2 separate regions of the Homo sapiens genome follow, and region 2 is linked to region 1. A link means that fine-mapping ties the variant in region 1 to the expression of a gene that starts in the linked region. Tissue or cell type: whole blood. Region 1 holds a variant in brackets; the other region holds the start of a gene. All regions are shown on one strand. Distances are from middle to middle.

Region 1 (4,380 bases):
GTGTCCTCGCCCGGCTGGAGAAAGAGGCGTCTCTGGTGAAGGGCCAGGGTGGGTCGCAGGGAGCCAGCGTCCGCCCCTGGGCCCCGCCGGACACTCACCCCTGTGGTCCTTGGCAGGTGTGCCCTCAGTGCACCCGCCTTCTTCTGGGGGGCTCCCGGCAGCCTCCGGCCGCGCCACATCACTCACGTTGAAGCTGCTCTTCCGGGCACGCATGACGGGGGACCTAGTGGAAGAAACCGGGAAAAGGAGGGGAGGTGATGGGGGGCAAGACAGCTTCATCTTCATGCCCCCGACAGAGGGAAGCCCGGCTCCCAGGCAGGGCCTTGTGCGCCGGGGACAGGGCAGCTGGGTGGCGGTACCAGGCGTTGGCGGAGACGTGGGGCTCAAAGTCGTAGTGCACATCGGGCTCCTGGTCCCGCTGCAGCTGGCGCACGTGGGAGGCGTACTGCTGGCCTGGGTCATACAGCTTGCTGCTCTCACACAGCATCTGGAAGTGCACGGGCAGCGGCGCCGTCTGCATATGCATCATCTGGTAGTAGGAGATCGTGGCCTGCGGGCGGCACCGGAGAGCGGAGGGGTCAGGAGGAGGCCGCCCGGTCCACCATCCCCGCCCGGGCGGCCGGAGCACCCCACGCACCGACTTGATGGTTTGGTCGCTCTGCCGGATGACCTCCTGGATCTGCCGCAGCGCCGTCACCTTGGTATCCTCCAGCTCCTGCTTCTGCGTCTTCGCGTCGGCCACGCAGGTGCGGTAGGTGGCCATAGCTTCCTCCGCCTGCGGTGGGGGCGGGGCGCACAGAGAGAGGCCTCAGCCCGGGGTGCAGGACTCAGACAGAAACCTCAGGGAGGCGGGGCTGACGCCTGTCATCCCAGCGCCTCGGGAGGCCACAGTGGGAGACTTGCTTGAGGCCAGGAGTTCGAGACCAGCCTGAGCAACATGGTGAGACCCTCCCCATCTTTTTTTTTTTTTTTTTGAGATGGAGTCTTGCTCTGTAGGCCAGGCTGGAGTGCAGTGGTACGATCTCAGCTCACTGCAACCTCCACCTACCGGGTTCAAGCAATTCTGCCTCAGCCTCCCAAGTAACGGATTACAGGTGCCCCCCACCCACCATACCCGGTTAATTTTTTGTAATTTTAGTAGAGATACAGGGGTTTCACCATGTTGCCCAGGCTGGTTTCGAACTCCTGGCCTCATATGATCTGCCCGTCTCAGCCTCCCAAAGGGCTGGGATTACAGGTGTGAGCCACCACACTCAGCCTGAGACCCCCATCTTTATAAAGAATTTTTTTTTTTTTTTGAGACAGAGTCTCGTTCTGTCGCCCAGGCTGGAGTGCAGTGGCGCGATCTCGGCTCACTGCAAGCTCCACCTCCCGGGTTCATGCCATTTTCCTGCCTCAGCCTCCCGAGTAGCTGGGACTACAGGCGCCCACCACTACGCCCAGCTAATTTTTTGTATTTTTAGTAGAGACGGGGTTTCACCCTGTTAGCCAGGATGGTCTTGATCTCCTGACCTTGTGATCCACCTGCCTCGGCCTCCCAAAGTGCTGGGATTACAGGCGTGAGCCACTGCGCCCGGCCAAGAATTTTTTTAAATTAGCTGGGTGTGGCGGCACACGCCTGTGGTCCCAGCTACTCTAGAGGCTGAGGCGAGAAGATTGCTTGAGCCCAGGAGGTAGAGGCTGCAGTGAGCCATGATCACGTCACTGCACTCCAGCCTGGGTGACAGAACAAGACACTGTCTCAAAAATAATAATAATTTAAAAATCGGGGCCGGGCGCGGTGGCTCATGCCTGTAATCCCAGCACTTTGGGAGGCCGAAGTGGGTGGATCATGAGGTCAGGAGTTTGAGACCAACCTGGCCAAGATGGTGAAACTCTGTGTCTACTAAAAATACAAAAAAATTAGCTGGGCTTGGTGGCAGGGTGGCTGAGGCAGAGAACTGTGTGAACCTGGGAGGCGGAGGTTGCAGTGAGATCTCACCACTGCACTCCAGCCTGGGCAACAGAATGAGACTCTGTCTCCAAAAAACAAATTGGCCGGGCGCAGTGGCTCATGCCTATAATCCCAGCACTTTGGGAGGCCGAGGTGGACGGATCACGAGGTCAGGAGATCGAGACCATCCTGGCTAACACAGTGAAACCCCGTCTCTACTAAAAATACAAAAAATTAGCCAGGCGT[G/A]GTGGCGGGCGCCTGTAGTCCCAGCTACTCGGGAGGCTGAGGCAGGAGAATGGCGTGAACCCGGGAGGCGGAGCTTGCAGTGAGCCGAGACTGTGCCACTGCACTCCAGCCTGGGCGACAGAGCAAGACTCCGTCTCAAAAACAAACAAAAAAACAAAAAAACAAAAACAAAGGTCTGGAGGTAGTAAATGTCACACCAAGCATTGGATCTCCTCCTCCAGGGACCTCCAGCCCTGCCTCCACCCGCCCTCACCTTGTTCTTGGCCTCCTCCTCCAGCCGCCGCCGCTTGTCCAGGGTCTTGGTGGCCGTGCTGCCTGCTCCCGGCGCGCTGCCAGCCTGCTCCTCCTCCGCCTTGGCCACGAGGAAGCGAGCCTTGTCGTGGTCCTCGCAGCGCTGCACGTAACCCTGCTTGGCCTTGCGCAGGTTGGACTCCGCCTCTTGCTGTGGGTGTGGGAGCCAGGAGGCCAGTTCCAACCCTATCCTCGGATGGGACTCAGTCTCCCCAGCTCCTCCTTTCCTCCCCACCCCCATCTCTCTCAGCAAGGCCCCATGGCCCAGCTGGGCATGCAGAGGACCCTGCACAACAATCGGCAGCGGAAAAACAGGAGGAGTGGCCGGGCGCGGTGGCTCACGTCTGTAATCCCAGCACTTTGGGAGGCCGAGGCAGGTGGATCACTTGAGGTCAGGAGTTTGAGACCAGCCTGGCCAACATAGTGAAACCCCGTATCTACCCAAAATTTAAAACAATTAGCCGGGCATTGTGGTGCACGCTTGTAATCCCAGCTACTCGGGAGGCTGAGGCACTAGAATCGCGAACAGCTTGAACCCAGGAGGCGAAGGTTGCAGTGAGCCAAGATTGCATGCACCACTGCACTCCAGCCTGGGCAACAGAGATTCCAGCTCAAAAAAAAAAAAAAAAAAAAGAACGGGAGGAGGCACCCGTAACAGGACACTCGGAGAAATGGGTGTCCTGTGTGCCCACTCTGCAGCCCGGGAAGCTGAGGTGCAGCCAAGCTCTGCACAGAGGCTCACACGGCAGCCTCTGCAGACACGCACACCAGCCCCCACGGGAGCGTCTCCGGGCTCTTTTGCTTTCACTTCCCTCCTCACAGACGAGAACAGAGAAGCCGCCCAGGCAGGAAGCCAGGCGCCCACAGGTTGGCAGGAAGAGCACTTAGTCAAAAACCTGTGGGCTCGGGGGCCACACCTCACAACCTGCACCATCAGATTCGCACACAAACAAACGGACTCATCCAATTACTAGGAGACCGCCAGGCGCCATGGGTCACACCTGTACTCCCAGTGCTTTGGGAGGCCGAGGCAGGAGGATCACTTGAGGCCAGGAGTTTGAGACCAGCCTGGTCAACATAGTGAGACCCCATCTCTACAAAAAAATTAAAAAATTTAGCCAGACGTGGTGGCGCACACCTGTGGTCCTAGCTACTCGAGACCAGCCTGGCCAACATGATGAAACCCCATCTCTACCAAAGATATAAAAATTAGCCAAGCACGGTGTCTTATGCCTATAATTCCAGCACTTTGGAAGGACAAGGTGGGCAGATTACCTGAGGTCAGGAGTTCGAGACCAGCCTGGCCAAGGTGGTGAAACCCCATCTCTACTAAAAATACAAAAATTAGCCAGGCATGTTGGCTGGCGCCTGTAATCCCAGCTACTTGGGAGGCTGAGGCAGAAGAATCGCTTGAGCCCAGGAGATGGAGGTTGCAGTGAGCTGAGATCGATCCACTGCACTGCAGCCTGGGCAACAGAGTGAGGCTCTTGTCTCAAAAAAAAAAAAAAAAAAAAAAAAAAAAAAGACTACTGCCAACAATCACAGGTTTCTACCTGGCAAAATAGGCCACAGGTAAAAATCAAAAGTCAAACAGTAAATTGTGGGAGGGGAATGGGGGGAGTCTAAAACTCACATGATTAAGGCCTAAGTTCTCTAATATGTAAAAAGCTCTGACAAATCAATGATAAGCCACTGTCCAGTACAAAGTAAGCAAAGGATAAGAACTAAGCAAAGGTTAAGAACTGAGGGTTCACAGAAGAGGAAAAGCAGGGCTGTGGCCTGGGAGGGTAGCTCATACACGCACGCCCCTTGACCCAGCAGTTCTATTTTGGGCACTGATCCCTCAGGCATCCTTGAGACAGGGGCACAAGCTTGTCATAGCAATGGTGTTCGTAACAGCAACAGCTCAG
Region 2 (4,380 bases), 250 kb after region 1:
GCTCATGCTGCTGATGGAAAACGTCTGGCGGGACTGCCTCTCCCGCCGCCTCAGGTCATAGGCACCCAGCACCACGGTGCTAACCCCGGGGTTCCTGAGAGTAGCGGAGGAAAGGGCAGAGGGAGGACACCAGGCTGGGGCCTGGGCACAGAGCAAGCCGGCTTGCAAATTAGGGGGGATCCCAGCCTGCAGACTGCAATCCTTCACCCTGAAAACTCCCCCGCTTTTACAGAAGCAGAGCCGAGACTTTCCAGGGCCCCCTTCCCATCTTGAGCCCCTTCCCTTCTCTGCGCCTCCTCCTCCATCTGAGCCCCTTCTCTTCTCTGCGCCCCCTCCTCCATCTGAGTCCCTTCCCTTCTCTGAGCCTCCTCCATCTGACCCCCTCCCCTTCTCTGCACCTCCTCCATCTGAGCCCCTTCCCTTATCTGGGCCTCCCCCATCTGACCCCCTTCCCTTCTCTGCACCTCCCCCATCTGACCCCATTCCCTTATCTGGGCCTCCCCCATCTGACCCCCTTCCCTTCTCTGCACCTCCTCCATCTGACCCCCTTCCCTTCTCTGCGCCTCCCCCATCTGAGCCCCTTCCCTTCCCTGGGCCTCCCCCATCTGACCCCCTTCCCTTCTCTGCCCCTCCTCCATCTGAGCCCCTTCCCTTCCCTGGGCCTCCCCCATCTGACCCCCTTCCCTTCTCTGCACCTCCTCCATCTGACCCCCTTCCCTTCTCCGCACCTCCTCCATCTGAGGCCCTTCCCTTCTCTGCACCTCCTCCATCTGAGGCCCTTCTCTTCTCTGCACCTCCTCCATCTGAGCCCCTTCCCTTCTCTGCACCTCCTCCATCTGAGCCCCTTCCCTTCTCTGGGCCTCCCCCATCTGACCCCCTTCCCTTCTCTGCACCTCCTCCATCTGAGCCCCTTCCTTTCTCTGGGCCCCCTCCTCCATCTGAGCCCCTTCCCTTCTCTGGGCCTCCCCCATCTGACCCCCTTTCCTTCACTGCACCTCCTCCATCTGAGCCTCTTCCTTTCTCTGGGCCTCCTCCATCTGACCCCCTTCCCTTCTCTGGGCCTCCTCCATCTGAGCCCCCCAATATCCTTGGGTCCCTCCTCAACTCAGTCCCCATTTCCCTCTCCAAGCCCCCTCCTTTCCCTGAGCCCCTCCTTTTGCAATCCCCTCCCCTCCTCACCTACCAAGCACCCCCACTGAATGCCTAAGCCCCCCAAGCCCCTTCTCTGAGCCCCAATGCCCCCTAGGCCCCCTCCCCAGGACCCCTCACTGGCTTTGGAAGCAGCTGGCCGCGGTCATCACGAAGCGGGCATGGATCAGGGCACCCCCGCAGAAGTGCCTGCCTTGATTCTGAATGGAGGCCAGGAACGGGAACTGGCGGGGCCTCGCCTTCCGGCCGCCAACGATGTCCAAAAGGGGGCTGGAGCCTGGGTCGGGGGGAGACAGCTCTGAGATCCCCAAGAATCCACACAGTGGCCGGGAGGGCGTGTGAAGCTGCAGCCTCAGCTCTATCCACCCAGTGGGGCTGCGGGGGGACCCACCCTCCCCCATCGTCCCACTCCCTAAGAGGACAGGGGGCCCCTGAGTCCCGCACACCGTCCGCCCTCACGCCTTTCGCGGGATCGTCCAGGCCGGGCTGGCTGTGTGACCCAGGCCAAGCCGCTTGCCTTCTCTGTGCTTTAAGTCTGAGTTCTGCCCTGGCAGCCGGGCCCTAGCACAGATGGGGGACCACCGGCACAGAGAGGCACTCACCGGCCCTCGAGGACGCCAGCAGACCAGCCAGCAGGGCCAGGACTGTCAGCCGGGTCATGGCGGGGCAGGTCTGTGGCTAAGGCGGCGGCTGCCCTTATACACAGGCCTTGGCAGTTGGTGGCGTCCCCGCCCAGGCCCAGGGACAGCCCCACTCAGTGGGAACACGGGAAATTGCCCAAGGCCTCCACCGCCAACTGCTCCCTGGGCCAGCCTGGGCTCCCCCTACATTCTGCACTGATCCTCAGTTTCCCTCTCTAGAAGATGGCCACACCCCCAGGGGCAGGTGAGGGTGTCAGGAACCAGTGGATCCCGGAGCCCAGCACATGGCGGGCATGCAGCCAGCACCCAGGAACATTGCCAGCTCAGAGTCCCAGTCTCCCCATCCCAAGCCACTGGGGCTCCAGCACTGCCCGCTGGGCCTGGCACCGGGGGGCTCAGGGCAGTGGAGCTGGCAGTCCTGCGTTGAGTCCTGCGCGTCTGTATGGGTGATTATTATTATTATTATTATTATTATTATTTTGAGACGGAGTTTCGCTCTTGTTGCCCAGGCTGGAGTGCAATGGTGTGATCTCGACTCACTGCAACCTCCGCCTCCCAGGCTCAAGTGATTCTCCTGTCTCAGCCTCCTGAGTAGCTAGGATTACAGTTGTCCACCACCACGCCTGGCTAATTTTTTGTATTTTTAGTAGAGATGGGGTTTCACTATATTGGCCAGGCTGGTCTCAAACTCCCGACCTCAGGTGATCCACCCACCTCGGCCTCCCAAAATGCTGGGATTACAGGTGTGAAACACTGTGCCCGATTGGGTGATTTTTTTAAACTTTTTCAACAGCTTTATTGAGATATAATTGACAAGCTGGGTGCGGTGGCTCACACCTGTAATCCTAGCACTCTGGGAGGCCGAGGCAGGCAGATCACCTGAGGTTGGGCGTTCAAGACCAGCCTGACCAACATGGAGAAACCCCATCTCTACTAAAAATACAAAATTAACTGGGCGTGGTGGCACATGCCTGTAATCCCAGCTACTCAGGAGGCTGAGGCAGGAGAATCACTTGAACCTGGGAGGCGGAGGTTGCAGCGAGCCGAGATCGCACCATTGCACTCCAGCCTGGGCGACAAGAGCAAAACTCCATTTCAAAAAAAAAAAAGAAATTAGCTGGGCGTGGTGGCGGGCGCCTATAGTCCCAGCTACTTGGGAAGCTGAGACAGGATAATCGCTTGAACCTGGGAGGTGGAGGTTGCAGTGAGCCGAGATTGCGCCACTGCACTCCAGCCTGGGTGACACAGAGAGACTCCGTCTCAAAAAAAATAAATAAAAACAAATTAAAAACTATATAAAAATAAATAGACGAAATGTCCAGAACAAGCAAATCTGCAGAGGCAGGAAGTGGATCTGTGGTTGCCAGGGGCCGGGGGAGGGCAGGGGGTGATGGCTGATGGATGGAGATGGGGCTTCCTTCTTTGGGGTGATGGAATGTTCTGGGACTGGACAGCAGTGATGGTTGCACAAGTCGGTGAATGCACCGAAAACCACTTCACTGTACCGTTCAAAATGGCTAATTTTAAGTTATGTAAATTTCATCTCCTTCTTTTGTTTTTTTCAGAGTTGAGGTCTCGCTGTTGCCCAGGCTGGAGGGCAGCGGCACCATCTCAGCTCACTGCAGCCTCAATCTCCTGGGTTCAACTGATCCTCCTGCCTCAGCCTCCCGAGTAGCTGGGACCACAGGCACCCGCCACCGTGCCCGGCTAATTTTTGTATATTTTGTAGAGATGGGATCTCACTATGTTGCCCAGGGTGGAGTGCAGTGGCACGATCTCAGCTCGCTGCAGCCTCCGATTCCCGGGTTCCAGCAATCCTCCTGCCTCAGCCTCCCAGGTAGCTGGGACCATAGGCACATGCCACCATGCCCGGCTAATTTTTGTATTTTTTTGTAGAGGTGGAGTCTCACTATGTTGCTCGGGCTGGTTTGAAACTCCTAAGCTCAAGCAATCCACCTGCCTCGGCCTCCCAAAGTGCTGGGAGCACAGGTGTGAGCTACTGCGTCCAAACTCACCTCCATTTTTTACAAAGGGGCTCATTTCCAAGGTGAAACTGAGGTCTGGAGCTTACCGTGTCCCCCACACCCTTGGGGACACCAGTTTGTGTCTGGGCCTGTGGGAGCCCTCTGAGGGCAGTTTGCCCCTCCAAGGGGCGGATACGGGGAGAGTCCAGGGAGGCGGGGCCGGTGTGCCTTGAGGTCCGCTGCCCATCGGGAATGTAGGGTCCCAGGGCTCAAATCTGGTCTCCAGGCCGGGAGCGGTGGCTCACACCTGTAATCTCAGCACTTTGGGAGGCCGAGGCGGGCGGATCATGAGGTCAGGAGATCAAGACCTTCCTGGCTAACACGGTGAAACCCCATCTCTACTAAAGATACAAAAAATTAGCCGGGCGTGGTGGTGGGCGCCTGTAGTCCCAGCTACTCAGGAGGCTGAGGCAGGAGAATGGCGTGAACCCAGGAGGCGGAGCTTGCAGTGAGCCGAGATCGTGCCACTGCACTCCAGCCCGGGAGACAGTGAGACTCCATCTCAAAAAAATAATAATAATAATAATAATTCCGGTCTCCACTGAGTTTCACAGCCCAGCCACCTC

The links. PIP is the estimated chance that this variant, and not a neighbour inherited with it, causes the effect. A credible set is the group of variants that fine-mapping cannot tell apart.
Region 2: it holds the start of AZU1, and the variant in region 1 is the best candidate, but not a certain one, in a credible set for the expression of AZU1 in whole blood (TOPMed, PIP 0.71).

The regions. Positions count from the first base shown.
Region 1 is chr19:1,076,098-1,080,477 of GRCh38, reverse strand. ARHGAP45 (Rho GTPase activating protein 45) reads right to left here. Exons shown (of 23, transcript NM_012292.5): 11 at 2,433-2,621; 12 at 638-775; 13 at 360-550; 14 at 99-223; 15 at 1-14. Among named protein-coding and RNA genes, the nearest start is that of ARHGAP45, 11 kb to the right of the region's middle. RefSeq lists a silencer at 2,943-3,032 and an enhancer at 3,203-3,342. The variant G/A (reference allele first, on the strand shown) is at 2,180.
Region 2 is chr19:825,276-829,655 of GRCh38, reverse strand. It overlaps AZU1 (azurocidin 1), which reads right to left and starts at 1,819. Exons shown (of 5, transcript NM_001700.5): 1 at 1,752-1,819; 2 at 1,270-1,426; 3 at 1-94. The coding sequence starts at 1,809.